7 linked regions of the Homo sapiens genome follow. The protein of the gene in region 6 purifies or fractionates together with the protein of the main gene of each other region. This does not show direct contact. Each region holds a gene or a part of one and is shown on either strand. Other genes may lie near its edges. The genes, in order: ITGB4, OSBPL8, MKLN1, MAEA, AGRN, SKI and RMND5A.

Region 1 (2,930 bases), on a different chromosome or scaffold from region 6:
GCAGAGTTAGGCATCAGCACTGATGGTAGGGCAGGTGGTTAGCGCCTGTGGGCAGGCGGGGGTCCTGTGGATGGAATGGAGGGGAAGCAGTGGGCACAGCTGGCGGCTGCTATGGTGGCTGGATGACAGATGGAGCAGGACAGCTGTGGAGACAGGATGGCCACCCCTGTACTACCTGGGCCCCAGGAGGGCGCTGCTGGCCTCCCAGCCAGGATTATAGAGTCTCGTGGGCCCCTGGAAGGGGGGAACCCTTTCATCTGAGCCCGACTCCGGGACCCCAGGGCCCAGGACAGCGGAAGCCTGCTCCTCCCGTGTTCCCAGATGGGAGGGAGGCCTAGGGCAGGACAAAACAAGAGTGAGAGGAGCAGGGAGTGTGCATGCATGTGTGTACGTGTGCGCATGCATGTCTGTGTACATGTGTGCATGCGTGTGCACGTGTGTGCGTGCATGTGTGCATGCGTGTGTGTATGTTGGAGAATGGGCGGTGGGGACAGCAGACAGAAGCCCGAGGCTCCAGGAGCTGGAAGAGAGGAAGGGTTAGTGGGAGAGGCAGGGTTGGCTGAGGTCACTCACCGTGGGAGGAGACGGAGGTGAGGGTGGAGTAGTCCCTGGGCAGTGTGGTCGAGTGTGAGTGTTCTGAGCGGGTCAGTGAGTTGTAGTCCCGTGTGAGGGTGGAGGATGTGCTTAGCACGCGGTGGGGCACGTGTGGGCTCAGGTGGGTGCCATAGGCAGCAGCACTGGTCGTGGTCATCCTGTGCAGGGAGTTGGTGCTGCCCGGGAAGGCAAAGTCCATCCGGCCATTCACCAGGTGCTCTGCAGGGGGAGAGCAGGGTCCCTTGGTCAGGCCTGCCCCAGACCCGGGCCCCGTGGGGCAGGCTGGGCCCTGCACATTCCTGGTCACCCACCCTCTGGGTGGCTTTTGCTTAAATACAACCAGTTTCCCTCAAACCACTAGGGACAGAGGCCCTCTGTCCCTGCAGGAGCCCAAGGGCCACCCAGGCTTCCACAGCCCATATCCTCTGGCCGGCCACTCTATCGGTGTGAGCACTGCTGACCCTGGCAGTGGCGGGGGTTTGCTGCGTCTGCAGTCAGCTCTGCCCTGGGGAGATCCCCAAGCCTTCCCTCCTGTCCTTTGAGGCCCCTGAGGGGTCTACTTGGGTGCCAGGGTCCGCTTCCCGGGCAGACTTCTGAATTTGCACCCCCTGGCCAGGCAGGCACCATAAGGGCCCAAGCGCCTGCCTCACGCGTCCCCTGGCACTGGGCCCTGCCTCTGAGCAGCTGTGCTCCCAGCCGCCAAGGCCCGGGCCTGGCTGAAACTGGGGCCCCCGAGGCAGCGCAGACGCCCACCCCAGGCCCTCAGGCGCGAGTGAGGCTGGGTGGGCGCGGATCGGGGGGCGGCGGGTGAGCCTGTCACCTCCGGGGGGCCCGGGTGTCGCACTGCGGGGCAGGCTGCCGCCCTTCCCGCCCGCGCCGCCGTCGTCCGGGGGCCCGTGGGGCGCCTCGGCGTCGGAGGAGCGCCCGCTGCTGGCCGACAGGCGCGGGATGAGCTCCGGGGGCAGCCGCCACGTGACGCGCCGCAGGTCCAGCTCCTCCCCCAGCAGGGGCTCGAACTTCCAGCCGCAGCCTTGGGAACAACGAAGGGCCGCGTTGGCACCGCCGGGGGGCGCCGGGCCGAGCAGGGCCAGGCGGGGGAAGGCCGTAGGCTCTGCGAGGGGAGCCCGTCTCCAGCTCCCGGGATCCCGGGGTGTGTGTTGGGGGCGGGGGTAGATGCGCACGGCCGGAGCGGGAAGGCCGCGGCAGGTGAAACCCTTGCGCGGCTGAAGCCTTTCCAGATGAGCGAGTGCAGCCTCGGCACAGCTGGGGAGGAGAGACCCCCGGACCCGCCAGAAACCTGGGGGAAGTCTGGGCTCTGTCACCAGCTGTGAGGTCTCCCTTGCTTTACTTAACCTCTCCGAGACTCAGTTTCCCGTTTGTACAATGGAGAGAGGAATCTTGCCCCTGCCCGCCTCCCAGGGACCGTTCCGCAAGCCACCGAGCGCTTCGCAGGTAGTGTTAGAAGCAGCTGAGCTGGGGTTCCAGAGTCACACCAGCTGCGCTCCACCTGAACCCCTCAAAATGGCTCCTTAAGCCCAAGCTGAGCCCCGTGGGGGCCAGTATGTGTTCACCGGGGGCAGCTTGAGGCATCGGCAGGGACAGAAGAAAATACAAAAGATATACGTGCCCCAGAGGTTTTTCCACTCATGGTACTGTGTGATTGGTATCCCATTATACAGAGCAGAAAAGTGAGGCATGGAAAGGATGAGTGATTCATCTGATGTCCCACAGGTGGAGCCACAGCTGACACTGAGCACTCAGGAGGCCCAGCTAAGGGCTCCGCAGCACTTTGTGCTGGGAATCAAGGAGGAAGGACAGAGCTGTTGGGGGTGTTCTTGTCTCCTTGGCTCCCCTACCCCTGCCAGGTGGCCGCCTGGTGGCTGCCCAGGGCTCCTGGGCCAGGCCTGCCCCTGGGGGGTGGCCTGAGTGTCCTGTGTGCATGGCACAGCTGGTGAACCTTCAACTTGTGAAGCTGTGTTTCTTCGTGGTCCCGTGGGCATGAACTCATGTGCGCTTGCACAAGGCTGTGTGTGTCTGTCCCCCAGGCACTGGTTCCTGTGCCCCATGCACAGATGTGCACTCCATTGCATTTGTCCAAGGCTGCCTTAACCTCCATGTCCTCTAGTTGCTGGCCCCTTTGCCCTCTCTGGACCCAGTGGACTCACTCTGTACCCAAGACCCCCACTGTCCTCTTGTGGGTCCCAGGTCTCCACTCACCAGTGTCATCGGAGACGCTGGGCCTCTGGCTGCCCGATGGAGAGCGTAGAACGTCATCGCTGTACATAAGGAAGCTGTCGTAGTCCTCCCCGCTCTGGGCGTCCACGATAGGGATGTCA
Region 2 (3,500 bases), on a different chromosome or scaffold from region 6:
TAATATGTAGGCATTTGGCAGCCAAAAAGCAAAAATTACCTTACTGGTGGTCATCTCAACAGGACAGATTTCAACTGTACAGATCTGTGTCCCTCAAATATCACTAAATAGGCCTGGCATGGCAGCTCACATCTATAATCCCAGCACTTTGGGAGACCAAGGTGGGAGAATCATTTGAGGCTAGGGGTTCAAGACCAAGCTGGGCAACATAGTGAGACTCTGTTTCTAAAAAAAAAAAAAAAAACTTAAAAATTAGCCAGGTGTGATGGTATTCGCCTGTAGTCCCAGCTACTTGGGAGGCAGAGACAGGAGGATCACTTGAGCCTGGGAGGTCGAGGCTGCAGTGAGCCATGGTAGTGAGTGCCACTGCACTCCAGCCTAGGTGACAGCTCAAGACCCTGTATCAGAAGAAAAAAAAAAAAGGCCAGAGGAGGTAGCTCACGCCTGTAATCTCAACACTTTGGGAGGACGAGGCAGGTGGATCACTTTACGTCAGGAGTTCGAGAACAGCCTGGCCAATATGGTGAAACCCCATCTCTACTAAAAATACAAAAAATTAGCTGGGCATGGTGGCATGCACCCGTAATCCCAGCTACTCAGGAGGCTCAGGCATGAGAATCACTTGAAACCGGGAGGCAGAGGTTGCAGTGAGCCAAGATCACACTACTGCACTCCAGCCTAGGTGACACAGTGAGACTCTATCTCAAAAAAAAAAAAAAAAAAACACTAAAAAAAAATGCATACCAATTCTGTGAATCAGCCTTATTCTTTAAAACTATTTTTTAATTATAACAACTTAGCTTTAAATACTGTTATCTATTATGTTCTTTAATTTCCAGTTACTCCGAAATTCTCTGAAATTCCCCAGTGAGAAAATGGCAACTGGATGAACAATAAAATAAATATTTGCTTTACTCTAAGTATTTTTAAGATTTAAAAATAGGATGTCAGTCAAATACAAGTAAAATGAGAGAAAAAAAATCAAGGCTATATTCCATCTTCTTATAAAGTAAAGTGCATTTTGTAAATGACACAACTAAAACAGACTCAGGAAGATCACAAGGTCAAGACGTATCAAGAGGAGCAACTGCAAATAAATTATACAAGGCAGTATATAATATGATGGTTAAAAGGATAGGCTCCAAAGTCAAAGGTCAGGTTAAACCTCAAGTTTAAATCCTTTTAGTAGGCTCTACCACCTACTACTTAACTTCTCTGTGCCTCAGGTTTAGTTCAAATCCTGGCTCCACCACTTATTTAATCTGTCAGTTGCTCAGGTTTAAAAAAAAGAAAATAGCCTGATTGCGGGGTGGTTGTCAGGATCAAATGTGATGACATGTCAAGTACTTCTAGAGTAGTACAGTACCTGGTATATAGCAGTTGACGCACATTAGCTATTAATATGACCTATAACAATTTCCCTCTGAATCTATCAAGTTTTCAAAAACTCTAAATCAAAAAGCTTCTCCTTTTTATTTGAAAAAAGTCAAGCTCTGAAACCATTTCCTCTTTTTTTCAGTCCTTTTTGAATATGGAAATTAGTAGGTAACTGGCTTATCATTTGATGACTCTTCTTAGTCTTTGTATAATAAAAAGGCTCAAGACTCTTCTTAGTCTTTTTATAATAAAATTCTCTTCCAAATATTATACAAAGGACAGACTGCTCCATGGATCAAAAACACTACAAAGAGTTCACAAAGTATAATGAAATTCTGAGATTCATAAATGAACAGCTACTGGCACAAAAAGCTTAGATAAGAAATAATGCAGATGTCTGTTTGTTTGCTCAAGAAATACTGAATTTTATAATAAAACACAGATGGTAGAGATCTTCATGGCTTATAGTCACATCACTAAAAACAGAAAATATTTTTGGTAAATTTTTTCTTAACAACCAGAAAACCCCTTATTTCATCACAACAATGAATAGATAAATGACATTACAGGCAAAGACAATTTCTTCAAAAACAAATTACGTAGAGAAAAAAAGCTTAAAGGCTCAGATTTTCAGCTACACATATCCCTTACTTTGAGCTTCAAAAATTTGAGGCTTCTAGCACTCCTTGTGGTCTGTAACATTAAGCAGTAATACAATTAGGCCTCATTTCTACCAGAAAACATTAAACTGACTGAAAGAAAATTATCTAGAATTTTGATTCTGATCAATTTAAACATAATGCCATGAGTCATCTAGATGAGTCAAGCAAATATTAGAGTTCATGATAAACGAATCAAAATATGTTTTAAAGATCTGCAGACAAACGTTTTAATAATTTTGTATTTGCTGAAGTCCTCCTATGTGTGACACATTGAGGTAGGCACATTCATATTGAGGTATGCACTTTCACATGCATTATATAACTTTGTTCTCCCAACGATCATGGATTATTATCCTGATTTTACAAATGAGAAAACTAAGACCAAGTGATTGGCCGATGGAAACGACGCTTGTATAAGATTCAGTCAGAACACCAATTCAAATTTTCTGACCCTTATCGTACTTCCAAAACTCAAGTACTGTCAATCTCTGCTGTTGCAAAGCAAGTTAATCTTTTTATTTAGGGAGAGGTGAAAATAGAGATGGGAGAATAAAAATTCTTCATAATGTTACAAAAAAAGACTTACTGTGCTTTATCTGACATAATTTATTCAGTCTGACTTAAATGCTTTGCTGCACGTTGTCTACCCCCTTAGACACTGCTTATCTTCAGACACACAGCCCACACCAAAACCTAACTCAAGAATCACCTCCTCCAAGAAAGTTTCCCAGATTAAATGACCTGTTCCCCTTCTCCCAAGCTAACATCCTTCCTTTATCATTTCGCTGCTTGCATTTAGTTTGGACTACATTATCAGATACTCCTTTTGTTCTCCAGTCATATATCTGGAAGTAGACTTTTTTCATTCATTAACTATTGAACATTTGGAGATTCAATGGTGAGCAAAACAGACAAGGTCCTTGCTATCATGGAGAATTTACATTATCTGGATCTTCGACAAAGGTAAAAATAACAGGGTATAAGAATATGATGCTCTAGGACTAGGATTTCTTCCCTATAAGGTCTCCGAAAATAGCTCTCTCCCTTGCAAGCTTGATAACACTTTTCAGGAAGAAAAATTCCTTCTATCACGCCTTCCACATGAGAATTTTATGACTTTGTGAGGATATGTGAGGGATGGGGACCAAGGTGGGAAGAAAGATCTAAAATCTCTCAGGGGTTTCCCACATACTGCCATGAAATATGCACACAACATGAGTCTAGACATCTCTTCCTGTGTCTCATCACAAGGAAGCTATACTTTGGCCACAACTGCTCCAGTCAAGCACTTCTACTAATCTCCTTGTACCCAGCCACCTTCACTAAAAATTGTATATTTCTCAGAGGCTTTTTGTTTTTTTGGTGTTTTTTGAGACTGAGTCTTGCTCTATCGCCCAGGCTGGAGTGCAATGGCATGATCTTGGCTCGTTGCAATCTCTGTCTCCTGGGTTCATGCGATTC
Region 3 (3,500 bases), on a different chromosome or scaffold from region 6:
AAAATTCTGCATATAATGTCTGGCACTCCATCAAAAAATTGCCTAATAATAATTATTACTATTATGTTATTATCCACATGTAATAATTTATATAATATACAATAGAATATATAATTAACATACATTAATATACAAATATATTAACTATTATTATTATTTGGCCTAACAAGATGCAAAATCAAAAGGAAAGAGATGATGGAAATAGGCCTATAGGTGATACAGATATTGAAGTTTTCAGACACAGACTTTAAAGCAATTTGATTAATATGCTCAAAAAATACATGACAAGAGATTTTCACATAATTAGAATCTATCTTAAAAAGAGAGGATGAAATAATTCTAAAACTAAAAAATACTATAACTAAAATTAAGAATAGATGGGGTTAAAAAGCAGATTGGACATAGTTAAATTCAGAATAAGTGAACTGAAATACAGTCAAGTAAAAACTATCCAGAACGGATAAGAGGAGGAAAAAAATCATAAAAATAACAGAAGAGAGCAGGAGACATATGGGGGATAAAAAGTATAATAAAGATTTAATTGGAGTCACAGAGCAAAGGAGACAAAAATGGGGCAGAAACAATATTTTTAAAAAGTCAAAATTTTTTCACAGCTGATCAGTCATACTACAAATTCAAGAGGTGCCAGAAACGCCAAACAGGGTACAAACAAAACCATTCTTAGGTGCATCACTGAAAGCTGTTTAAACTTAAAGAAAAAGAGAATGACAAAAAGAAAGGCAGCTGAACAAGAAAGTCATACTACCTTCCAAGAAGCAACAGTAAGTCTGACGGCTGATTTTGCAACAGAAACAATGGAAGCTAGAAGACAATGAACTGAGATCTTTAAAGTGCTTCAAGAAAATAACAGCTAATAATGTAGAACTGTACAGTCATTTAATATATTCTTCAAAGATGAAAATAAATAAATTTCAAACAAGCAAAAACTGAGAATTCAGTACCACCAAACTCCCTAAAAGGAGTTCTTCAGACAGAGGAAAATTAATCTCAGATGGAAGCATGTAAATACAAAAGGAAATAAAGAACAATGGAAAGGGTAAATATTAACTGTACAAAACAACAGTCTCTGGATTTAAATGTAGACGTGAAATGCATGACAATGACAACATAAAAGCAGGAGAGTGATAAATGCTATTAAAGTTTTCTAGGGTCCTAACAATGTCTGAGATGTTGTTTTTCAAAATCCTAATGAATATGCAACTCTAATGTACCACAAGAAAGCTTGTGGTGATCTAGCGTAACCACCAAAAGAACAGTAACAGAATATATAACTAACAAGCTAACAAAGGGAGGAATAAAATAATATTTTTAAAACACTTGATTAATCCAAAAGAAGGCAACAATGGAGAGAAAATAGAATATAGAACAAGTAGGACAAACAGAAAACAATAAAATGACAGACATAAACCCAAATTTATCAATAATTATATTTACCATTAATGAGCTAAATATATTTCAGATTTAATTAAAAACAGGCAAACAAAAATCTGTTTATTCTTAACAAGAAACAGACCCCAAATATAAAGCTACAGGAGCATTAAAAGCAAAAAGGAGAGAGAAAGTTTTACCATGCAAGCAAACAGCAGCCAAAATAAAGCAGGTGTAGCTAAGAAGACTTTGAGGCGAGAGACAAGTGTTACTAGAGATAAAAAGGGACATGTTATAATGATAAAGAGCCAATGTACTAGAAAGATAAGTTTGTATGTGCCTAGTAATATGACTTCAAAATACATAAAGCATACAGTTTAGTTCTTTATAGAACTAAAAGGAGAAATATACAAATCCACAATCACAGTAAGACACATTTGACACTTAACCTCAAGACACCTCTCTCTGTAATGAATAGAAAAAAAGGCAAAAAAAAAAAAATTCAGTAAGGATAGAGAAGATTTGTACAACACAATAACACAATTTACAAACTTGAACTTAACAAAGTACATAGAAGACAGTAGTTAACAGCAGAATGCATAGTCTTTTCAAGGGTACATAAACATTTATAAAAATGCTGAGCCATAAAATAAGTATCAATAAAGGTCTGAAACTATTCAGAGTGTGTTCTCTAATCATAGTGAAATTAAGAAATTAGTAACAGAAAGATAACTAGCAAATCCCCAAACGTTCAAAAAGTAAGCAATACATTTGTTAAAAAAAAAAAAAAACCTACAGGTCAAAGAATAAGCCAAAATAAAATCTGAAAAACATTTTTGCATAAATGATAATGAACATGTAACATACCACAATTTGTGGGATACAGCTAAAATGTGTTGAGAGGAAACCCTATAGTCTTAGGACTAAACATAGCCTAGTTTTCCAATTATTATTAACAACCAATTCAAAATATAAGTTATGTTAGGGTACTTCAATCTAGTTAGCTGCCATTCAACAACTTTTTTAGGGACAGATTTATATTAGACTACTTAAATTATTCCTAGATAATGACTATGATATTTCCTTTCTCTTTGTATACTTTTTTAAACATGGATTAATCTTAATCAGTAAAATTTCATCATAAGCAAAACCCATTAAACAAACAATATCTTTGTTTATCTACAGCATAAATATACATACACAGTATTCTACAGAATGTTACTTTGACTTCACAGATTTTTAGAAATATTCGTAACCAAGTCCTGAAGTTCTCATTAAACAACAACAAAAAAATTTTCTAACTGAAACATCTTCCCAATGTGCAAAGATGTTAAAAAATATTTTCTTCAAAAGTCCCCCATATTAATAGATTTTAATACTGCTGGACTTCTCAGAGCTTTATCTGACCACCCCTTAATAAGCAACAATCTACAGAACCAGCCATTCACAAAACAAGCCCTGGGAAATCCGGTAGCAGAGAAGATACCCGGATCAACTATCCTAAGATTGAACCTATAAAGACCTAGAAATTTTATAAATTTTCTATTGTCTCTTATCAGAGATTTCTGACAAATGGTATTATAAACAAACAGTAATTAGGGATCTCTAAATTCTCAACTGTACATTCTTTGAAACATTTTATACATATTAAAATGTCTATAAATAGCTGTATCTCTAAAATTAAAGTCTAGAAAATCTTTCATATTTCCAAAAACGATTTTTGAATGACTGAAATACAGCAAACTCATTGCCACAAGTGGCTGAAATGTATCTTATCTACACGTAAAACATCACAAAGTCTTTGTATCAGGCCAAAAATCATTTATTAAAAATCTATTTAAATATTTACCTAAAAGTTAACGCAAATAATAGAACCATTTACCCATGTGCCCAAAAAATTGTACATAAACCTCTCAACATTTGATCAAGATAAAAAGTATTTCTACACAAGAAACTGACGCTCAGAAAAGAATCATAACTTGCCAAAAGTCACAAATATCTAATTCTAGGAATCAGCTCTGTAGACTCAAATTCTCATCCTGAGTACATTTCTTCCATCTTGAGTGTTTTTATTTTTCTGAAGTTCTAAGAGTCCCAGACTGAAAAACACA
Region 4 (3,500 bases), on a different chromosome or scaffold from region 6:
CGTCACCCATGCCATTCCTCACCTGTACCCCTCACCCATGCCTGTGCCGTTCCTCACCCGTGCCTGTGCCCCCCTCACCCGTGCCTGTGCCTCCCTCACTTGCGCTGTGCCCCCCTCACCTGTGCTGTGCCCTTTGCCTTGTGGCTGCTCCTGCACTTGGTTCTCTCTCTGTTGGTCGGTTTTCCCATTGGCTGTGCAGCTCCCTGGTGTGCACGTGGCTCTGAGTCTTCCTCTCGTGAAAACCCCTTCCTTGCCCCCGTCCTCCTCCAGCTACTACTCCCTGTCTCTGCCCCTTCATGTCTCTCTTCCTGTTTTACCTAAATCAGATTTTTGCCCCCCAACACTCCACCCAGATGTTCCTCTTGAGGACAGGATGATGCTCCTGAAAGCGGTCAGTCCACAGCGGACCCCACTGCCTCGAGACGCTCCCATCACTCGGCTCCCGTGACACCATCCTCTGGGCTCTCCCCACCCCTCGCTGCATGTCCTCACTTGCCTATGCTGTCTTCTCTAGTCTTGGAGGCCTTTTGTTTTATGTCACCAGCCAGCCCTCCAGAGGTTGTGTGGCTTCACAGACGGTCTCCAAGCTCCTGTCCCCACACTGCTGCCCTCCCCAGGCCTCTCTCCCTGAGGCCATCCCGTGTAGTCACCTCCCGGAGCTCTCTTCGCATGTCTGGAAGGCAGTTCAAAGATACGATACCAGGCGCAAAACCAAATGCCGCATCTCGGCCTTGGGGCCCCAGACGAGCCCCAGACCTGCCTTACTAAGCCACCCTTCCCAAGTCAGTTGACAGCGATGTCCCCCGGCACTTGTTCAGTGACAGCCGAGAACTCGGAGGTTTTCTCGATTTCTGTTTCTCACGTTTATCCTTGAGTCCACGATGGCTGCTGGGGCTGCGGCCTTCGCGGCCAGGAGGAGGGTAAGGGGGAATCAGTGCCGCCCTGCGTGGCCAGCTCCCTGCGTGGGGGCCTTAGTGGACATCCTCCCAAGCGTTTACACTTCAGCTCATTCCCCAGAGCACGGGGCTGGCCATTTCTAGCTTTGGAGGAGCCTGAAAAAGTACGTGCGTATGTGTGTGTGTATACATACATATAGAGAGAGAGCACGCGCTTGAGTGTGGGCTCATTGCTGCCCTAAATAAAATTAGGATGTGGTTCCTTTTGCCCTTTGTCCCTTGCCTGCCTGGTTTCCTTTGCAGCACTCGTCACAGTCTGACGCGGTCGCCTGCATCTCTCTGTGCTTTGGTTGGGCGTCTCCTTTAGAGCGTCTGCTCTGCGAGGGCACGGGCCGTCCTTTGTCGTCGTTCACGTCACACCCACGAGTGCCTGGCACAGGAGTCAGTCAATGGCTGTTGGCCGAACCAATTTCTCCCCCGTCTGTCTGGGAAATTCCTAAACTTCGCATCTCACTTTTGTCCACTTGCCGCATTCTAGAGTATGTCTTGGTCTCATGGCCTGTGCTCTCATCTGGCTGTGGTCAGCCTCTTGCGTTTCCTTTCTCCCTTGCCTCCACCCCTCGCGATGTAGCCCCATCCCCTGCCCTTCTCTGCTTCCCATTGTTCTAGAACATTCCAGCATGGAAACCCCGCTGTGCAAGGCCCCTGCACTGGCCACAGAAGCCGCACCTATCTGCTGAGGAACCCGGTTGCTGCCTGGAGTGGGTGTCGAGTACTGCCTGGCAGCATAGCCATGCTTCTTGAGGCATTTTAGCACCCTGTACCCCAGGTACTGTTCCATATGCCCCTCCTTCTCCATGAGCCCCCCATGCCTGCCCCGTCCTTGTGCTCTGCCCGCGGCTTGGCCCTGTCTGTCGCCTGCCTGCTTGTGCTCACTGTTTCCTTTCTTTTACTGGAGATATGTCATTTGTGCCCCGCCCAAGGCCAGCCTTTGTTCATGCACCAGACCCCCTGCCCCATCCCTGTGACCTGAAGAGGCATGTGCCGTCTTCTGGTTATCCACGAAGAGGCACACGCGCCGTCTTCTGGTTATCCACGAAGAGGCACACGCGCCGTCTTCTGGTTATCCACGAAGAGGCACACGCGCCGTCTTCTGGTTAACTGTGTGCGGGACCCACAGGTCCCCTCTGTCTGAGCCAGCCCTGCCTTGGGGTCTCTGGAATTGCTTCTCATCTGGTTTTACCCCCATCACAGTGCTATAGTCAGGGCACCAGGTAACCCCAAGACACTGCTGAGACCCATGATGGATTCTTGCTGCCCATCTCGACCTCTCACAGGGCTGGAACACAGCTCACCCCCTCGGGCTCCTAGAGCGCCATCCTCGCGTTTCCCCCCGGGCTCAGTCCTTGGCCCTGGGTGTTGCTGTGAGCACCGCTGCCTTGGTGCTCTCACAGGGTCTAGTGGACTGATAGGACCCTCTGTGTATACTGATGACTCCCAGGCAGGTATCTTCCCAACCCCAGAGCCCTGTATCCAGTAGCCTGTAAAACATACCCACTTGGCAAGGCACTTTGGCATTAAAATTATTATTATTAAAATTATTATTATTTTTAGAGATGGGATCTCACTCTGGCACCCAGGCGGGAGTGCAGTGGCATGATCACAGCTCACTTCAGCCTTGACCTCCTGGGCTCAGGTGATCTTCCTGCCTCAGCCTCCCGGGTAACTGGGACCACGGGCGCCTGCTTCCGTGTCTGGCTAATTTTTTTATTTGTAGAGATAGGTTCTAGCTCCGTTGTCTAGGCTGGTCTCCATCTCTTGGGCTCAAGCATTCCTCCCTCCTGGGCGTCCAAAAGTGTTGGAATAACAGGTGTGAGCCACCATGCCCAGCTCCTTGGCATATTTAGATCTGAGCTTATCATCTTAACACCTGCTGCCCAAACCAATTCTACCAGTCTCCCTTCTCTTCGGGAAGGGCAGCCCCTCCATCTCCCTTGGTCAGGCCAGAACCTTCAGGTTGGCCTTGATGCCTCTGTTGTCACAGCTCATGCCCAGCCCGTCTGCCCCTCCACCCTGGCGTCAGGACATGCCCAGGCCCAGCTGCTGCTGCTCTTCCCACCTCTGCCCCTGCGGCTCAAGTCGCATCTCTCTCTGGAATATTGAATAGCCTTCTGGCTGCTCCTGCTCTGCTCATGCCCACCCCGGCTGCCCCAGCGCCAGATCCTGTCGTCTTTTTGTTCTAGGAGTTTCCTGACCTGGGGATGAAGGCCAGGGTCGTTACAGTGGCTCCCAGGCCCTTTGCCCTGTAGGGTGCTGGGCCCAGTGGCCTTTCTGCCGCCATTCAGCCAGGCCAGCATGCCGAGCCCAGGGTTTTACTGCCACCTTCCTCTGTCTGGAGCGCTCCTTCCACAGATGTCCATGGTCCCATGTCCTCACCTTCAATCTTTGCCAACGTCCGTGGTCCCATGTCCTCACCTCCTTCAATCTTCGCTGAGCTGTCAGCTTGTGAAGCTTCTCTGACTCCACTGTTGAAACTGCAGCCCCAGCATCTCCCACTTCTGCCCTTTTCCCTCGTGAGTCGTGACCGCTGTCTCACATAACGGT
Region 5 (3,500 bases), 1.3 Mb from region 6:
CCCACGTCCACAAGCCTGAGAGACCTTGCCGTGCTCGCAGCCCGCGCATTCACCCGCCCCCGCGCCGCATCGGGGGTCCACCACGGACACGGACACGCGTGCGTGCGCTCACAGGACCGGCCCTGCCCCTCGCAGACCCCGCCCGCCGAGGATTCCCGCCAGCCCCGGGCCTCTCCAGGGATGACCTTTCTCCCCCACCCCGCACCTGCAGGCGCGGAGAGGGGCGTCTGCCGCAGGCGGCACCCGACTCTGTTTCTGCGACGGGCGAGCACCCACTTCCCACCCACCTCGTGGGCCTCCAGCGAAAAGCAGAGACGCCTCGAAACCAACTCGGGCACAAGCAGTCCAGGCCCCAGTTCTGCTCAGGAGCTCCTTCCACATCGGCACCGGAGCCCCTCACCGATTCACCCCATGGAGCCGGGGGAGCCCCTTCCCGCGCTGCTGCAGCGTCCAGCACAGCTGAGCCCTGCCGCCTCCCGCCCGGGTCGCACCCAGGTCCCGCGTCTGGCCCTCAGGGGCCTGAGAGCCCCACCGGGACGGGGTGTGAGGCCAGGTCACAGCTCTGGCCCACCTCTGGCGCCTCCCTGACCGCTCCCTGCGCCTAAGATGGGTGGGGAATCTTCTTGCCTCCCTCTCCCCAACTCTTCCCCAGCTTCCCTGGAGAAGTGCAAATTCCTGGCCTCCGCCTCTACTATCTCCTATTCTCCCTGGCCAGCCCCCCACCCGCGGCAGGCCTGTGCCCTTCTGCAGCCTCCCATCGCTCCCTGGGATCCCTGGGGCACCCACACGCCCCCTCCTCCCTGGGCATCCCCCGGCCCCCCACCTCACTCTTGCCTCCTCCATCGCCCTCACTCTCTGTCAAAGCGAACTTCCTTCTTGGAGAGGTGCAGGAACTGTTGCTCATTTTAGTTCTTACAGCTGCAGACCACAGCGCCTGACACACGTCCCATCACCAGACCTCAACGTGGCCAACAAAGCTGCCTCAGGCACGTTAAAACCCAGAGCCCCTGCGGCAGCCCATCCTGAGCACCCCCACCCCCAGCATGGCCCACCCAGGATCAGGGAAGGGTCCGTTAGCGGCTGCAGCTGTCTGGATTTAATAAATGTTTAATTGGGTCCAATTATCATTAATAAGTCATGTCAGAGGGGTGGCTACCACCCATCACTTCCCAGCAGGCTCGTGAAATGGGGCAGGAGGAACCCCCCCCATCTCCAAGGAGGGTGGGTGCACTGGGAGCTGGAGCCAGCTGTTGCTATAGCAACAGCCCACCCCAGGCTCTGGCGCTGTCTGTCTGGGTGTCCCTGCCCCCACCCCAGAAGGCTGAGTGAGGGCCATCCGCCTGCCATCCCTGCAACCTACCCATGCTCCCCCCACCAGATCCCTGTCTTCCTCCCCAAACCTTGGCTGTGCCCCCACCCCTCTTCTGCTACTCTCCCACCTCAGGTCTTACAGCCAGGCTGCTCAGCTCTGCATTACCCACTGTGAGAATGTGGGCAGGTTATCACCTGCCTGGGCCTCAGTATCCCCTTCGGTGAATAGGAGCAATAGGACCTACCTCCCAGGATTGTGGGGTTAAATGGGCCAGTATCTGCAAAGCTTAGAGGGTGCCCAGCACACAGCGCTATGTGGCCCGTCTGCTGCCACTGTAAGTATAGTCATGAGGGCTGTCATCACCACTGGCCTTCCCCCGTCCTGGCTCAAATCAAACTCAAACCACATGCACCCCTGGCCCTTTCACTTCCCTTCTGGTTCCCCTTCTCTCTCCCCTCAGCATCTCCCTCTCCCTTTGGCCCTGCCTTGTCCAAGGCCCTGGGACTCCCAGTCCAAATCCAACGGGCACCTGCTGATGCCCAGCCAGCTGTTCTCCTGGGCTTCGGCTGGACCTGTGGACCAATGGTTCCCCCCAGGTCCCAACCCCATGGCCAAGGACCCAGTCACCTCCCTGCACCAGGGCTCCTGAGCCTTTCTCCCCTTTTGGTCACCTTGGCTCAGCCAGACCTCTCCCAAGGCCCTGACACCATGGCCAAGGGCACTGTTCCTGGATGGCGGGCATGCTCCTCATCCACCAGGACCCGCAGCTCCCTCCATAGTCCAGCCCGAGGTCCTGCTACGTCCCAAGACAGAGCCTTGGGGAAGAAGGTGATGATGGCAGCTCACCAGGGTGAGCGGGGCTGGACTGCTTGCAGGGGCATGGAGAGCAAGCTCTGGGATGGGAGCCTAGAGGTACCTTAGGGACAGGCTCTGAGTGACCAGCTGCTGGACCAATGTGGCAGGGCAGTGGAGAGACCTTGGGTACCTGGCGGGACCTTGAAGCCAGGCTGAGCACTGGCTCCCCATCCCCATCTGGTGTGCAGGGCCAGGTCCTGGCCCCTTCCCCTCTGCCTCCAGGGCCTCAGAGAGTCCGCTCCTCTTGGAATGTGGCCCCAGCTGTGGAGTGGGGGTGGATCTCCCTCACAGCATTTGATGGTGTGACACTGCCGGCCAGCCCAGGGTTTAAAGGTCACAGTGCTGGTCCCTCCCTCCTATCCCCATCCAGGCTGGAAACACATCTGCCCCTCAAGAGTGAGCTCAGGAATCACGGCCTCCGGGAAGCCCCACCCCCCCATTCTCCGCTCACACTGCGGGCTTAGGTGAGGGGCCGCTCCCACCACTGTGCTGAGTCTCCACAGGCCTAGGGGATCATAGAGGCTCCACACGAGATCACCTGAAGACAGGTGCACGTGGTGATGGCACACACGCACGTACCCGCCAGGCACAGCGCATTGCAGCAGCCACGCCCCGAGATGTCTCCCCTGCCAGCTGGCAGGAGGAAGGTAGGCCACCTGACAAGGCCACACTGCTAGAAATGCCAGCACTGGGCTCAGACACATCTGTGCTCCGGTCACCTGCCCACATGGCCCCTCATAGATGCAGGTGACACACCTAGGACCCTGAGAGCCCTGTGTTCCCGATGGGTCATTTTTGGGGGTCCTGCCACGCCTGTCTTAGCTCCACCTCCTGCAGGAGCCCCTCCCCGGCCACTCGGCCTCCCCACCCACTCTCCCGCAGCGTGACGGGTCCTCCCACTGTGTGCAACGCTGGAGGCGGCAGTGCTTTTTATAGGAGCGGGTATATTTAACTCCCTTCCTGGTCCTGGGTAGGCTGGGGGATGGAGAGGATGCCCCAGCCCTGCTGTGAGCTCTGGCCCGTAACTATGACCACAGTTAGGTGGCATGTGGGTCACGATGGCCTTGGTGTGGAGCCCTCCGTGACTCTGTGGCAGGGTGGGCTGTGGCCAGGTGAAGGGGGCAGTGTGTAAAGAAAAGGAGACACTCCCCAGCCTTCTGGGTGTCAGGAAACGAGGCTGAGGATGCTAAGAGAGGGGACCTCCCACCTGAGCACCTCTTTAAATCCAGTTGGCTCCAGGCCTCTGGCTCACAGGTGGTGGAAACGCAGTTCTTGCCCTGGCCCTGCCCGGCCCCAGCCACCAGCATAGACCTGCATAGACCTGTCTCCTCCC
Region 6 (3,500 bases):
CGCCACCCAGATGCGAGGGCTCAGCAGTCTCTGGTCTTTGCTCGTCACTGCCCCGAGGTCGTCTGTACCTGGGCAAGTAACCTCCACCTTCTGTGAGCGCGTGCAGCTGCCGCGGGTGTTAGAACGGATTCAAGCAAAGAACTCCTGTAAGATCTTCTTATGTAAATAAATACCGTAACTGTAGGATAGGTAGCCGCCTCTTGTCTACTGGGAAATCATTTTTCAAGCTTGGGCATAAGAAACCTTATACAATTTGCATAAACAGGTGAGAGTAAACGAGATTATTTGGAATAAATGCAAGGAACTTATTCTGAGAGTGGCAGATTCAGTCGCTACTGAAGACAGATATCTTGGGGGTAAAAAGACACGAGTCAGGATTTGCTGTACAAGATGCTGGAAGGCACAGAACGACCCCCGAAGTTCAGTTTTTGCATTTTCGTTTTCTTGTGATTCCCTTGTTCAACCAAGCACCAGAGGGGGTTTCTAAGCACTCGAGCACTTCGGATTTGACTGCTCTATAAATCGGTAAAAACCTCAGTTCACTGGGGAATAGAAAGAGAAGGGAAGGTTGTGGACAAAGTGCAGTTCTAAATATACGTTTAAATGAACGAACAAAAAAAAAGAAAGAAAAATTGAAATAATGCTCTTTTGTTCCAATGCTGCAGCCTCAGTCCCAAAATGAAGGGAGCGACGTTTGCCGAACTGAAAAGGGTCGCCCGGTCAGGCGGCACGTGTGCCCGGAGGGGCTGAGGGCGTGACCGCCAGCCACGGTCACCACCCGACGCAGGTCAGTGCCTCGTGGTGGAGGAGCGTGGGCAGAATCACGGGGTGCAGAGGAGCCGAAGACCGTCCCCTCAGCTCCGGGGCAGCTCCTGTGCGGCTCTGCACTTCCTGGTACCCGTGGGGACAGCGCTGGCATCGACGGCGGCGTGGCGGGCGGGGTAGGCGGCAGTAAGGCGGGCAGTGTTCGAGCTCATCTCGCACGCGGCACTGTCCCTGCTCTCCCTGGCAGCAGCAGGAAGACCTGGGTCCTTGTCGCTGAAAAAATAGACTCTGAAGAAAAACCCCTGCTGTCCTCACGCAGCCGCGGGCAGATGAGCTGTGATGGCTTCCCCGGGTGGGGAGGGTGGGGCGGCCGCCACCCCCACTCCGTTGCGGGTCTTCAGATGGCGTCATGTGTTGGGGCTTTTAGAAGTTAGTCATTTAAAAATGTGTTGATTTTCTGAATTTCAAGTCTCCTTACTGGTTTTAAATAGCTTATAACAAAAGTGTAAATGTTAGAATGTTCCAGCAAGCAGAGGACCAGCAGGCCGCCGAGCTGGCCCCGTCTCCAGCTGTAGTTGGGGGACGCGGCTTACTCACTTGAACTTGGCCAGTAGAAAATTTTGCAGTGGGTTCCAAAACTACATGGTTACAAACACTCGCTTGGTAATAGGCACGGTAAGACGTTGTGCTGTGTGGGCTGCAGGGGCGGAGCCGGGCGGAGCTGCACCGCCCAGCCGCGCCCCCCTGCACCCGCGTTGTCGGCGGCGCTGCGGCGGCAGGCACGGAATCTACGGCTCCAGCTCCGCAGCGCCCTCGCTGCCCGCAGCCTCGGGGCGGGCCCGCGGCCACAGCTGTTCCTGCAGCTCCTTCACCACCTTCTCCAGGTGCTCCCGGGCCTCGCGCTCCCGCAGCAGGTCGGCCCGCAGCTGCTCCCGGTCCGCCTCCGCGTGCTGCAGCTTCACCTGCAGGTCTTCGATCTGAAAGGGAGCCGAGTGGTCAGCGGCGCCTGCTCGCTGCCCTGCCCCGGCCCGACGCTGCTTCCCCCACCCGAGGCTCCTGCGCCGCTCCCTGTCCCTCCCCAGTGCCGCGTGCCGGCCCCTCCTCCACCTGCTAGGACACAGGCTCACGAGACGCAGGGCCCAGCAACCACCCACCCTGTGCCCGTCGGGGGGGCACGCACGGAACGTGGTCCCGGGCCTGGCTTCTGCTCCAAGGCCTTTCCGGCTGGGCAGGACTGGCCACCGGGGCCCACGGCGGCTCCACGCCCACCGTGCTGCGTGCCTCAGTCTCCCCACCCGCATACCTGGGCCGAGTACTTGGCGCGCAGGCGGCCCGCCTCGCAGCCCTTGTCGCACACCCGGGCCTGCCGCGCCTGCTCCAGCTCCCGCTTCAGGCGCAGCCGTGACTCGTTGGCCTCTTTCATCTTCTTCTCGTTCTCGGCGCGGAGACGCTCGATCTCCTTCCGCAGGTTACGCTTGGCCTCCGTGGCCTCCCGCAGCTTCTCCTTCTTGGCCACGCGTAGGAACTCCAGCTCCTGGGGGCCGGAGGCGGCTCGGGGTCACTGCCCAGCCGGTCCCAGCACACCCCTCACCATGACCAGCAGTCCTCAGCCCACCCCGTGGGGTCATCTATCTGACAATGTGCCCTGGAGCCCCGCCCCCAGCGCGCCATCAGCCCAACCCGTGTGGTGCCCCGACCCCACAAAGGCTTTTCAGACCCCCATCCGGAGTTTCCGCCAGGCCTGTGGCAGCTGTGCTAAACCTGGGGGCCTGAGTCAGTCACTTGAGGCTGCGGCGGGGCCTCCCCCGGTATCTAGGGCCACGTTCCCCTTGGGGGCAGCAAGCCAAGTAGGCCCTGGCTCCCATCAATGTGAGGAGGGCAGCCTCAGACATCGCACCATCTGAGGGCCCCGGGTCTCCCCACGCAGCCAGATGGACACGTCCATCCGCCCGGCGCCTCCGCAAGCCCCCCCACTCTCCCCATTAAAATATCCGTGTGACTCACACCCCACGCTGCAAACACACCACATGAATATGTATGTGGGAAATCACACCTCCAACCAGAATCAAGGACAACAGTGGCGGGGGACGTGCTGGGGCGAGGGACTGGCACGCGCAGGAGGGCACGTCGGCAACCCTGCAGCTCTGAGGGCCGACGGGGTTGTGTTGTGCTAAAGCCCACGCCGCGGAAGCTGCCAGACGCCGCCGAGGTGTGAATTTAGCGAGGCCGGGGCCCGGTGAACAACGGGCCGCCTGCACACCTCTCTCCCCAGGCAGCTCTGCCTGTGAACCGCACTTCCCTCAGTCATGTCAGAAAGAAACCTAAACAACGTAAAAGGAGGCGCGAGACCGGAGCTGCAGCGTGAGAACCGTGAGGCAGAGCCCAGAGAAGCAGCGTGTGCAGGTGGGTGTGTGTGTGTCTGTGCGGGCCGAGCCCTCTCCTTCCTACTCGGGAGGCCTGGCGGGAGCCGCCTTCTGGAACACCAGGCATTAGTAAGCACGCCCCTCACGCCTGTGTTTTGCAGACGCCAGGTCTTGCTGGCGGAGCGCGTGAACACCCACTCCTGGAGCACACAGAGCAAGGAACTGTCTCCATGCAGCTGCTCCCAACTCTTTCTGCCACTAAAAATAGCCCGGCCTCCCTTATACCAGAGAAACATGGCTACTTCCTCAGTGGGGCCACCACGCAGGGTGTGTGATCCTGATGGGGAAAGCTGTGGTCAAGCCAAATGTAGT
Region 7 (3,500 bases), on a different chromosome or scaffold from region 6:
TTTTTAGTAGAGATGGGATTTCACCGTGTTAGCCAGGATGGTCTCAATCTCCTGACCTCGTGATCCGCCTGCCTCGGCCTCCCACAGTGCTGGGATTACAGGCATAAGCCACCACACCTGGCCTTCACTTAGCACTGTTTAGAGAAACAAATGTTCATCAATAGGGAACTGGCTACCCAATCATATTTCTATACAGTAGAATATACTGCAGCTTTAACAAAAAAATAATGAGGGCTGTTTCTGCAGCACAGAAAAAGATCTCCAAAATACATCACTAAGTGAAAACAGCAAAGTACAGAACATTTTTTAGTATGCGACCATTTGTATAAAAAAGGGGAAAATCTATCACCTACCCCAAAAGTTAAGTTAAAGACATGCTTATAAATCTAATCACCAAATCCATAGACACATTAAAAATACTCAAATCAGATACCACCAACTTTGCCAAATGAATAGTTAAGAAATTTATTTAGTTCTAAATCTAGCTACATTTTTTTAATCCTCATCACTTCTTATCCTCCTACCAAGTTCCAAAACAAAATTTATTTGCTAACATTTTTTAAAAGTCAGACACTTACTTGCTACCATTAAACATTTTATTCAGGGCATCTCTTGATATAATATGACCACAGACCAATTTCATGGGTGGATTGTTATCTGTTGTTTGCTGACGAAGAATGGGGCAGGCAAATATAGAGTGATACCAGCACTTTTTACCAAGGTCCACTTCAATCTGTTAAAAAAAAAAAAAAAAGTAAAAAAGCTGAAGTCATATTTCACAAAACCATCCACATGGTAATATACACTGTGCAGCAAAGAACATTGATCAGATCTATTCACCTGAATGTAACTTTCTATAGCACTCTTCTAACTCAGATGGACAGTCTTAGTGATTCAAAGTGTTAAATTAGCCTTCAAGATTATTTTCAAGAAAGCTGACAAAGTGTAAAAACAAGTCTGACAAACAATGACCTGATCACCACCTCTAATGGCTTTACTGGCTTGACACACAGTCTTTAGGTGAATTCAGATTTCAGTCTGCTCTTAGTGCATGTCAGAGATGCTTACAACATAAATGGGAAACTGCCAGATGCCAGGCACCTGCCTCCACAAAACAAGTGAAGGCTCAAGTTCTTTTCACTTGTTCAAGTTAGCGGCAGTAGAGCAGGAGTGCTACTTGTGTCCTGACCACACTCAGGACCAGGACTGCACCTGTGCCTTTAATCAGAAAAGATCTTTGAGGAGAAGCTGGGGCAACCAACTGACAGGGTTACCTGCTGGAAGAACAAGGTAACTGCAAATAAACCCGTGTACAGGTGTGGTATAAAACGGGCAAAAAAACAAATGCGTATGTTAGCTTTTCAGGGTCTGTGACACAATCATGACAGGAACGACAATTCCAGGCCAGAGCCTCAGTGCCTGTCAGAGACCTGGTGGAAACATACATACAATGACCTTCGCCACTTCACATCATAACTGCACCATGGCAGCCACAATTTGAGTGCCTACCATGTATCCCGTCTTATTCTAAGCATGCTTATGTTATCTCTAGCCTTCAGCAGCCCCATAAAGAGAAAGCTGGTGCTTGTCTTAGAGATGAATACACTACTGCTTAGAGAAGTTCTAGAGTTGGCAAGTGATCGTGCTGATGTTTAAAACCATGGTCCTTTCCATGAGAGCAGTAGAAATACAGTACTAGAGACCCACTGATGACTGCAGGTGTTACGACCTTTAAGAGCTCTATACTTATTCTATTGGCAAATGTAACCAGCACAAACTCGTGATCTTATCGACAGCAATAGTTAAGACAAAAGTAAAACCAATTAAATTTGCGTTTATATTAGAAAAACAATCACAGGAGTGGTCTGTGAACTGCACTGCAGAACACACTGCCTGCTACTGTATGTACAGCCCTCCCCACTTCTGATGTTTCCCTTCACCAGCTTTCAAAGGCACTTCAAGTCAAAATTATAATACTCCTCCTCCAGGGTCCCCAAAATGTACTAGGCTCTTCATTTGTATTGTTTAATCTTTTATATATCCATAAAAGAACTCCTGTCAAATGGCTACAATGTTTCCTGGTTAAAAGGTAAGATGAACATTTAAAGATGCCATATTCTTCTAATGGCAGTAAAAGTAAATAGCCAATAGAAAATGGAACTCACAGGTAATTCATCTTTCTGGTTCCAAACTCCAGTACACTGCCTCTGTTCAATCACGGCTTTGATGTTAATTAAAGCTGGCAGCGCCACACAACCTGCTGAGAAACTGGGAGAGCAGAAGAGGAAACGTCAGTGCCAGGCCAGGGGTCAGGCCGCTTGGTCCAAGGAGACATCAATTTCTCCAGACTCTATGTGCTGCAGACCCTGGCCACTGGACAGGGTGAGAGCTTTCTGTTCTGCTAAAAGTAAATCCAGCCATTTCCACTAGAAGAGAAATAACTTGTTTTCCCTCCCCTTCTTCCCCAGGCCCACTGGTATATTTCCTGAAGTTACTGAAAACCAATCCCAGTTAAAAAACAAAACAAAAAATAAAACTCTAAATTTTCTAAATAAACCTCACCAATATGGGGGTAAATGCAGTTAAAGAACGCAAACGTTAAAAAAAAAAAACTCATCTGCTAGGGTAATTTAACTTTAGCTTACTTCCTCAGAAAATAGAAAAATAAAGTTTTAAAACATGCATTTTAAAAAAGAAAGCAGCTTTGGAGAACCAATTAATTCAAATGAAGAGCAGGAATTAAGAACTACTACACTCTTCCAAATACAGTAGTTTTAGCATCTGAGTTTGAAGGAAAAAGAGATGTTCTTGCACAAAATTCTTCACTCAGCAATATACAAGACATAACTTCCTTTCCTATTCCCTTCCTTACAGACCATATACCACCAGACTTATTTTTCTTACAAAATGTGCTCCAAGGTATACGCTAATTAGAACAATGATACTCAAAATGTGGTCTGCAGATGGTGCTGATTTACACACCATTTTCAATCCACAGGAAAGAAGTACAGAATTGAGAATAAGGTTTTTAGAGAATTTAATAACAGCAGATGGTGGTGGCTCACTCCTGTAATTGCAGCACTTTGGGAGGCCAAGGTGGGAGGATTACCTAAGTTTGAGAGTTTGAGACCAGCCTGGGAAACACAGTGAGACCCCCGTCTCTACAAAAGATATAAAAATTAGCCATTAGCCAGGTATGGTAGCATGTGCCTAGAGTCCCAGCTACTGAGCAGGCTGAGGTGGGAGGATGCCAGGAGGTTGAGGCTGCAGTGAGCCACGATCGTGCCACTGCACTCCAACCTGGGCAACAGAATGAGACCCTGTTTCAAAAAGTAAAATATAAAGAATTTCATAATAATCTTACATTAGTGCCAAAAAAGGTTTTATATTGCACAAAACAACTGGATTTAATGGGCTCAGCTTATCAGTCAAATGACATGCTTGCTCCTGAAACATTTTTTTTGCATAGTTCCTCTTATCCCCAGATCACCCCTGTCCAG

Evidence for each region.
Region 1: the proteins of SKI (region 6) and ITGB4 purify together in Homo sapiens (affinity purification with mass spectrometry, with the first as the bait; one large-scale study listed by BioGRID). This does not show direct contact.
Region 2: the proteins of SKI (region 6) and OSBPL8 purify together in Homo sapiens (affinity purification with mass spectrometry, with the first as the bait; one large-scale study listed by BioGRID). This does not show direct contact.
Region 3: the proteins of SKI (region 6) and MKLN1 purify together in Homo sapiens (affinity purification with mass spectrometry; 2 studies listed by BioGRID and IntAct, with this or other methods). This does not show direct contact.
Region 4: the proteins of SKI (region 6) and MAEA purify together in Homo sapiens (affinity purification with mass spectrometry; 2 studies listed by BioGRID and IntAct, with this or other methods). This does not show direct contact.
Region 5: the proteins of SKI (region 6) and AGRN purify together in Homo sapiens (affinity purification with mass spectrometry, with the first as the bait; one large-scale study listed by BioGRID). This does not show direct contact.
Region 7: the proteins of SKI (region 6) and RMND5A purify together in Homo sapiens (affinity purification with mass spectrometry; 4 studies listed by BioGRID and IntAct, with this or other methods). This does not show direct contact.

What each region holds. Positions count from the first base shown.
Region 1 is NC_000017.11:75,752,459-75,755,388, reverse strand, and holds part of ITGB4 (integrin beta-4 isoform 1 precursor), read right to left. Parts: coding exon 2,812-2,930; intron 1,625-2,811; coding exon 1,415-1,624; intron 814-1,414; coding exon 574-813; intron 335-573; coding exon of another isoform or gene 176-334; intron 1-175. UniProt on the Homo sapiens protein: Integrin alpha-6/beta-4 is a receptor for laminin. Plays a critical structural role in the hemidesmosome of epithelial cells. Is required for the regulation of keratinocyte polarity and motility.
Region 2 is NC_000012.12:76,553,272-76,556,771, forward strand, and holds part of OSBPL8 (oxysterol-binding protein-related protein 8), read right to left. Parts: intron 1-3,500. UniProt on the Homo sapiens protein: Lipid transporter involved in lipid countertransport between the endoplasmic reticulum and the plasma membrane: specifically exchanges phosphatidylserine with phosphatidylinositol 4-phosphate (PI4P), delivering phosphatidylserine to the plasma membrane in exchange for PI4P, which is degraded by the SAC1/SACM1L phosphatase in the endoplasmic reticulum.
Region 3 is NC_000007.14:131,334,376-131,337,875, reverse strand, and holds part of MKLN1 (muskelin), read right to left. Parts: intron 1-3,500. UniProt on the Homo sapiens protein: Component of the CTLH E3 ubiquitin-protein ligase complex that selectively accepts ubiquitin from UBE2H and mediates ubiquitination and subsequent proteasomal degradation of the transcription factor HBP1.
Region 4 is NC_000004.12:1,296,391-1,299,890, forward strand, and holds part of MAEA (E3 ubiquitin-protein transferase MAEA), read left to right. Parts: intron 1-1,583; exon of another isoform or gene 1,584-1,725; intron 1,726-3,500.
Region 5 is NC_000001.11:1,037,120-1,040,619, reverse strand, and holds part of AGRN (agrin isoform 2 precursor), read right to left. Parts: intron 1-3,500. UniProt on the Homo sapiens protein: Isoform 1, isoform 4 and isoform 5: neuron-specific (z+) isoforms that contain C-terminal insertions of 8-19 AA are potent activators of AChR clustering.
Region 6 is NC_000001.11:2,304,819-2,308,318, reverse strand, and holds part of SKI (ski oncogene), read right to left. Parts: intron 2,300-3,500; coding exon 2,069-2,299; intron 1,743-2,068; coding exon 1,554-1,742; 3' UTR 1-1,553. UniProt on the Homo sapiens protein: May play a role in terminal differentiation of skeletal muscle cells but not in the determination of cells to the myogenic lineage. Functions as a repressor of TGF-beta signaling.
Region 7 is NC_000002.12:86,768,791-86,772,290, reverse strand, and holds part of RMND5A (E3 ubiquitin-protein transferase RMND5A), read right to left. Parts: intron 2,269-3,500; coding exon 2,166-2,268; intron 734-2,165; coding exon 579-733; intron 1-578.